Homo sapiens: one gene and its partner. The protein of the gene in region 2 purifies or fractionates together with the protein of the main gene of each other region. This does not show direct contact. Each region holds a gene or a part of one and is shown on either strand. Other genes may lie near its edges.

Region 1 (3,820 bases), on a different chromosome or scaffold from region 2:
TCCAAAGAAGCTTCCATTCAACTTGACAGAACAGACTGTGACCAACGGGCTCTCTAAATTCCCCACTCACACCTCCAAATACTAACTCCAAAACTCAGCTCTGGACTCACGGTTACTCTAATACAGTACCCTCTTTCTCCTCCCACCCCTCCACTCCCCCATCCCCACGCCACGGCCAAGGTCAGAATGGGTCTGAAGTCTGACCTTATACCCAATGTCAGCAGGCTGATTGCCCACAGCCACTCTGGTTATGCCAGGAAGGTCTATTAGAGTCAGATCCGGGACATCTCGGGAGCTGATCTCCAGGGTGATTAGCTCATGACTGATTCCCATTCCTTCCCCGGCGATGGCATTCTGGGCTAGAAAAGAGACAGGGAAAATCAAACCCAAACAGAGCTTAGGATAAACGGATCTCATGATGGTGAATACTCTGAAAGCATCTTCTCCTCTCTGCGAGTCATGGATAAAAGCATATTTGGAGCAGATTCAATTTTCTGTGATTGGGATAAAAGAGATCTCAAAGGATAACTCAGTATTTTCCCTGCTGTTGGCCAGCACTGTGTGTAGAGAGACCTTGTGAGAACGTCACCATGAGTGACACCCACTTAGACCAGTCCAAAGCTGGGCGGAGGCAAGAAGTTCTTCCTGGTAGCATTCCTAAATCCTTCTCATTGATGTCAGTAGGAAATTAGCAACCAAGCAAAATAAAAACAAATAAAAATATATGGAAATGCCTAAAATATAAACTGGAAAATTATATGGGGAAATGTGCTTATTTTAGCTAAGATAAGCACTGGCTGTTAACATCCCATTAAGAGATTTTATTTTGCTCCTTCCTCCTTAATGAATTTTAGGATATGAATTTGTTTCATCAAATTGTTGGCTAACACCACTTTACTCTTTTCTAAATCTAGAATGCCTTTTTGGGATGTTTGATATCAATTTAGAACTTAGGAAATATCAGTGGTTATGGTCCACTAATTGTTCCCCCAATATCCATGTACCTGCCATGTGGTCATGAGATCGGGTTCTGGCCAATGGGCCATGTGAAAATGTTATGTGCAACTTCCAGAAAGTGTGCTTACAAAGGCAGAGATATGCCCCTTGCCATGGTCCAGCTGGCTTCAAAGCGGACTTGCTGACTAAGTCACGGGGGGGCCTTGGAAACAGAGGCCACACCCAATGAAGAAATGGGAGAAGAATAAATCTTGGTTCCTGACATTGGAATCCCCAATCAGCTCTGGTCTGCCCGCCTTCAGACTTATATGAGAGGGACAGAAAGCCTCTACATTGTTTAGACCGCTGTCTCAGCAACTTGCTGGCACAATGGCATCCACATTCCCTTCCATCCCTGTATGCACGCTACTTTACAGGGTGCCTTCGTCACTTCCATGGAGAGAGAGAAAATCGGTCCCTTGAAATTGGGCTTGGCCACGTGACTTTCTCTGGCTAAGGGGATGTTACACAGTGCCACGTCAGGAGAGACCGAAAGGTGTTAGATGTCGGGTCTTGCCCTCTCTTGCTGCTGGGAACCCCTCCACCCACATTGATAAGTCCAGCTTAGCCTTCTGGAGGGTGAGAGACCACACAGACAGAAGGCCCGGTCACTCCAGCCAAGGGCCATCCTGGACCATCAGCCCCAGCCCAGCTAGCCCAGAGAAGAACTGCCCAGCTGGTCCATCAAATCATGAGAAATAAAAGTGGTCAAGCCATTAGTTTTAAGATGGGTTTGTTATACAGCAAGGGCTAAGGCACACAGTTATTTTGAGTTTTCTGCTGCAAGCAGCCAACCTAATCCCAACTAATTCAAAATCACGGTTTGTCAATAACATTATTTATCTTTCTTTAAACAGTCAACAAATGTGATTAATGCTCCATCTTTACAAATGCTAAACCCGTCCCTTCCTACTGCTGGGCATTAGTTCATGTCTCTTCAGTACCTTCCCAGTGTGAATGAAACTTAAACATGTGACATGCCAGAAAAACATGAAGGTCGATAGGAAGATGTTATCCATGCATCTCACAGAGGCTGTTCTTTGTCAGCTACTCTACCCTGTCTACACTGCTGGTGTCATTTCCCCTTGCAGACACTTCAAATTGATCCTTGTGGTTTGCATTTATGGAGGCCTGCCATGAATTAGCCTAAGCTGGGATTATGCAAACACAGTCACTCCTCTTTCTTAGAAAAGGGTGCTGGTTCTGAGTGGGGTTCAGTGACGATCCTGTCCACAATGTGGAGTTCCTTGTACAAAGGAACAGGGGGAGGAGCTCCCTCACCCCCATATCTGGCTCCTCTTCCTGCCAGATCTAAGTAGGGAAGCCCTTGAATAAGGGACAGATCATCCATATGTGGGGACATTTTAAAATTCACATTATTCTAGATACTTACATAATAAGCAATACATGTGTTTTTGAGACAGGGTCTCACTCTGTTGTCAGGCTAGAGTGCCGTAGCAAGATCACGGCTCACTGCAGCCTTGACTTCCCAGGCTCAAGCAACTCTCCCACCTCAGCCTCCTGAATAGCTGGGACCACAGGTGCATGCCACCCTGCCCAGCTATTTTAATTTTTTTTTTTTAAGAGACGGGGTCTCACTATGTTGCCCTGGCTGGTCTTGAACTCCTAGGCTCAAGCAATCCCCCCGTGTCAGCCTCCCAAAGAGCTGGGATTACAGGCACAAGCCACTGTGCCTGGCCAGAAATAAATGATTGCTATCAGATGCTGATATCCAAGCGTGCTGGTCATAATGAGGTAAAAGAAGTAGAAGGAACCGTGGCCTGATGTGCAGGAGAAAGGTGTCCTGACAGCACAGGCCCAGGGAGGTGGGAGTATGAACAGTTACAAACAGACCCCATGCATGTCAGAAGGCTTGACCAGGCATCCAAACAGGGGGTACTCACCTTTATTAATTTCCTTTTCTACCTCTGAAGCATCCGAAATCTCAATCTCGTAGTCCTGGTAACTGACCTTGCCTCTCCACTTATCTTCGTTCACAAGTTTCTTCAGTTTCAGCACCAGCGGGCATCTGGTCACGATCCCTAGGAGGCCACGCCCACATCAGTGCTCCACTTTGCTCTTAAAAGACCTACATAGCGCCTTAGGCCCATGGTTCTCAAACTTTTATACAATCATATGGGGAGACATTTAAAACTGGAAACTTTCTGGTCTTACCCTCTGATATGCGGGGACATCGCACTGTGTCTGGGTGACCTCAAGAACATGCATTCTGAGTATGTAACCCAGGTGAGTTTTTGCTTACTAACGCTTGAAAGCCACCACTTTTGGCTTCCTGCCTCATCCCAGTGTTCTGCCATCAGCTCAGGTGGCAGACCACATTGGGAATCCCCCGAAACTCATCCGAACATCTTCCATTATCCCCCCAGCATACACACTCTACCCCCATTAGGAAAGCATCCTGCTGCTACCAGGCCACCTTACAACAGTCCTCCTACTGTAAACTCCTTCCATATTCTTCCTACCACACCTGATCTGTATTGCAAGACCCGTCCCAGGCCTGAACTCTTTGAGACCTCACTGATATAGTTCTGAACTGGGGGACCCAAATGTGTTTATTCAGATTCTCCTCAAACTGTAGATTACATATGACTTATGTGAAAAAAATGTGCAATGAGATAGCGTTATGAAATGGTGTTCCCTCCAAATTCCTATGTTGAAGCCCTAACCCCTAATGGGACTGTATTTGAAGATAAGGCCTTTAAAGAGGCAATTAAGGTTAAATGAGGTCATTAGGGTAGGCCCCAATCCAATATGACTGGTGCCCTTATGAAGAAGGGGAAGAGACAGCAGAGATGCTTGTGTG
Region 2 (3,820 bases):
TCAAGATGTGCCTCATAAAACTCTGCAAATCTAAGGCCAAAAGCTGTGAAAATGACCTTGAAATGGGCATGCTGAATTCCAAATTCAAGGTAGGTAGCATGTGGTTTATGAGGCTGGAGAAGGCAGCAGGAGGGGGCAGGCGAGTCTAGAGTGTGTTTGAGTCATATGGCTGCCCTCCCCCACCCCATGCAAGGGGAGCCAGGAGCTGGGAGGGCCGGTACTCTGTAGAGTCTACCTGGACACATCTGAAAGCTCCAATGCCAGCAGAGGCTACTGTGATACCCTCCTTTCTCCTTGCAACCCCTTGGAGAGGTGCCCTGCTGGGGACATAGTAAGCTGCCTGGCTAAGCCATGACCCCAGTGAAGGGAACCCCTTAGTGGACTTGGAAATGGAACAGCTTTTCTCAGAAAGTATCTGGAAAATGATCTCTGAGAAAAAGGTTTCCTTCCCACTGTCTGGCTTTCCTGGGGATTCTCAGTGTTTATTAGTATGTTAAAACCCCTGGAGAAAAGACATCCATGTAACCTTAATTCAGTGCTTTCCAACCAAGTTGACTAAATATTCTGTAACCCTTATTAACATCCTACAGAGCTAAAGGTCCTAGGAACAATGTTCTAGGAAGCCAAGCAGCACCAGGTAAATCAGCTTTCAAAAGCTGCTTCACTGAGACAGCCCCGTATATGGATACTGTTCAAGTCCTACGAGATATGTAGGGATGCATGTATGTTTTTCTGTGTGATGTGTGTGGGTTTGTTTGTTTTATCCAGAAGACTCGCTACCAGGCTGGCATGAGGAATTCTGAAAATCTGACAGCAAATAACACTTTGAGCAAGCCCACCAGATACCAGGTAACCACCCCTTTCCCAAGCATCCAAGCATGGGCAGAAGTAGACTCCACTAAGACACAGATTTAGTCCCATGACTGTGTCATCCCCCGAGAACACAGCTTCATTCCTTCCTTTATTGTACAAATATTTATTGAGTACTTACTATATGTCAGGCACTGTGCTACTTCCTGGGGATACAGATACAGATGTGGTTCCTCCCTCAGTGGCACCTCCAGTCTAGTGATGATGGACAATAAACAAGTCAACACACAGATAAGTGTATGCCCTCAAACTGGTAATAGTGACAAAAAGCAAACAGGAGGACTCAAAAACAGAGAAAAATAGGGAGCTTCAGCCTAGATATAGTTTTCAGAGAGGACATCTTCAAGGAGAGAACAGTCAGCCGAGACCACTCGGATGCAGGAGGCAGCCATATATGGCCTTCCAGGCAGAGGAAGAGAAGGGTGGCAGGTCCAGGGCAGCTGGGCCCTGTGGAAGCAGAGGGTGGAGGGAGTGAGGTCAGAGGGCCAGACCACTGTCAGGATGGGGGAGAGGGTAACTTTGCCCAGGAGGGGAGATGATGAAATTGTATTCGCGCTTTAAGAAAACCACCTAACTGCTATAATGAGAAGAGACAGGTGGGGACAAGAGTAAAAGCAGGGATACCAGTGAGGAGGATGTGACAGTCATTCAGGTACAAGGCATGGTTGCTTGGATTGGGGTACGAGCAGGGTGATAGAGAAAAGCAGACAGATGCTATACACTTTCTGGATATATAGCTGCTGGGCACATATGGGGAGGGCGAGGCACACCCAGCATGGCTCACAGGTTTCTGTCTTAAGCAGTCAAGTAGATATAGGTGTCTTCAGACTTGGACTGCCAGCCTGCCAAGTCTGTTGTCAGAAAAATTAGAAAAAGAACTTTTATGCTTCCAATCCTTGCATTGCTTTTGGAAATGAATGCCAGATCTCTGTATCCGTTTGGATCAGCCCATGCGCCAGTGATAAACGATAGCTACAGATGATCAATTATAAAAGGGCAGGCCACTCCTTTCCTGTCTTCCACTTCTCGATGATCAGCAGTTTCACCTATGCTGATCATTTCTTATCAGATGTAAATTTTAAGCTGTCCTGAGCATTCCTTTGGGTGGAGGTGATGTGCCCCTGGTGCCACCTTCCCACAGGGAGAATTACAGACTTAGATCTTTTAGATACAGGTCTCTAACTGAATCTCTCCAACCATATTTCAGAAGCCAGCTGTGCAGTTAGGAGAATTTAATTGCACAATTAAGAAATGGCTCATCCCTCAAAGAGCTTATAGTTCTATCAGATGACAGGCGAAAAATTAGCAATGGGCAAATCTTGTGTTTAATCGCGCACAAAATTGGCACTGACTGGTTTGATCTGCTTTGAGCTATTTTACAGACCAAAGCCTTTGGTCAGTGAAAGTATTTTTATTTCTCAGCTTTTCAGAGAGAAGTATAGATTATCTGTGTCACAGAAAAGATAGATACCCAATGGGTTAGGGCCAAATCTCTCCTAGGTTTTGAGCAGAATTAGCTCCTGAGATAAAGGAAGATCAATTCTGTGTGAATGTCCCATTCCAGAATGAATCCTTTCTGAAAGAGACCATTTTCTTTTCTTTTTTTACTTTTTTTTTTTACTTTATTTATTTATTGATTTTAGACAGATTTCACTCTTGTTGCCCAGGCTGGTGTGCAATCGTGCGATCTCGGCTCGCTGCAACCTCCGCCTCCCAGGTTCAAGTGATTCTCTTGTCTCAGCCTCCCGAGTAGCTGGGATTACAGGCATGCGCCACCATGCCTGGCTAATTTTGTATTTTTAGTAGAGATGGGGTTTCACCATGTTGGTCAGGCTGGTCTCAAACTCCCGACCTCAGGTGATCCACCTGCCTCGGCCTCCCAAAGTGCTGGGATTACAGGCATGAGCCACCACGCCTAGCAGGAGACCATTTTCAAAAGCAGTCTCAAAGCAGTCCCATCTCTGTCTTCCGTCCTCGCTGGTTGAGTCCATACTGCCTTGAATCTCCCCAGGAACTTCCTGCTGTGATTACAGAGATTGGTCATCTACAGCTTCAGGCAACTGATGACCTTGGAAAGCTTTGCTCATTTTGTAATTTGTGACTCCACAGAAGAAGCCTGAGGTGACTTATTCAAATAGTTGTCACAGAAAAGAAACAAAAAGCCAGCCAGTAGGCATCAGAGGAAAGGGGCTGAGAGAAAGCAGTCTTTGCACATTGGCTCTTGGCTCCACCCTGCTAGGCTGTGTGGCATCGTCCTGAGTCATCATCTGCTCACAATTGGAGTAAACCCTGAGATGTCACTAAAAGATACCTGGATGCAGGCTGGACACTAGCTCACGTGTACTCTCCCATATTCCTTGGAGATGGGCACTGTCTTCAACCCCATGTAACAGATGAGGGAATTGAGGCTCAGTGGCCAAGGCCACACAAGTGACTGAATTGAGATCTCTCTGACTCAGAGGGCCCCCCCTCTCTCACCACGTCATGCTGCCTGGACACCTGCCTATTATTTATCTTCGTAGTTTTGCACCAGCACCCTCCTCAGAACCTTTCTTGCCTGTGTTTGACAGTCACCAGGAAGAGACCTATTTGAGCCTTCCAAGCACACAGTGAGGAGGCAAGGAGCAGAAGGCACTGGGGCACTTTTGCTGTCAACAGCAGCAAGGACAATTTGAGGGGGGATCTGAGTATGGTTCCTCTCTTTCCTTGGGCCTACCAGTGGCCTTCCAAGTAGCATTGCTTTCCTCCCACAGCAGCTTCCAAATGTGCAGAGAACATGAGCAGCCCAATTCACCCCCTCCTTCTTACAATCCAGGCCCTAGGCAGAGCTGCTGTCACTGAGCACATATTCCATCAGCTTCTCACATGTTGTGGCTCTGAGAAATCACTTAGTGTTCCCAAGAAGATAAAAGCACCATCGTTCACACACATTTAGTTACTAAGTTTGCTG

What was found.
Region 1: the proteins of TRPC7 (region 2) and MX1 purify together in Homo sapiens (pull-down; one study listed by IntAct). This does not show direct contact.

What each region holds. Positions count from the first base shown.
Region 1 is NC_000021.9:41,436,233-41,440,052, reverse strand, and holds part of MX1 (interferon-induced GTP-binding protein Mx1), read right to left. Parts: intron 3,039-3,820; coding exon 2,901-3,038; intron 360-2,900; coding exon 205-359; intron 1-204.
Region 2 is NC_000005.10:136,222,303-136,226,122, reverse strand, and holds part of TRPC7 (short transient receptor potential channel 7), read left to right. Parts: coding exon 1-89; intron 90-768; coding exon 769-849; intron 850-3,820. UniProt on the Homo sapiens protein: Forms a receptor-activated non-selective calcium permeant cation channel. Probably is operated by a phosphatidylinositol second messenger system activated by receptor tyrosine kinases or G-protein coupled receptors. Activated by diacylglycerol (DAG).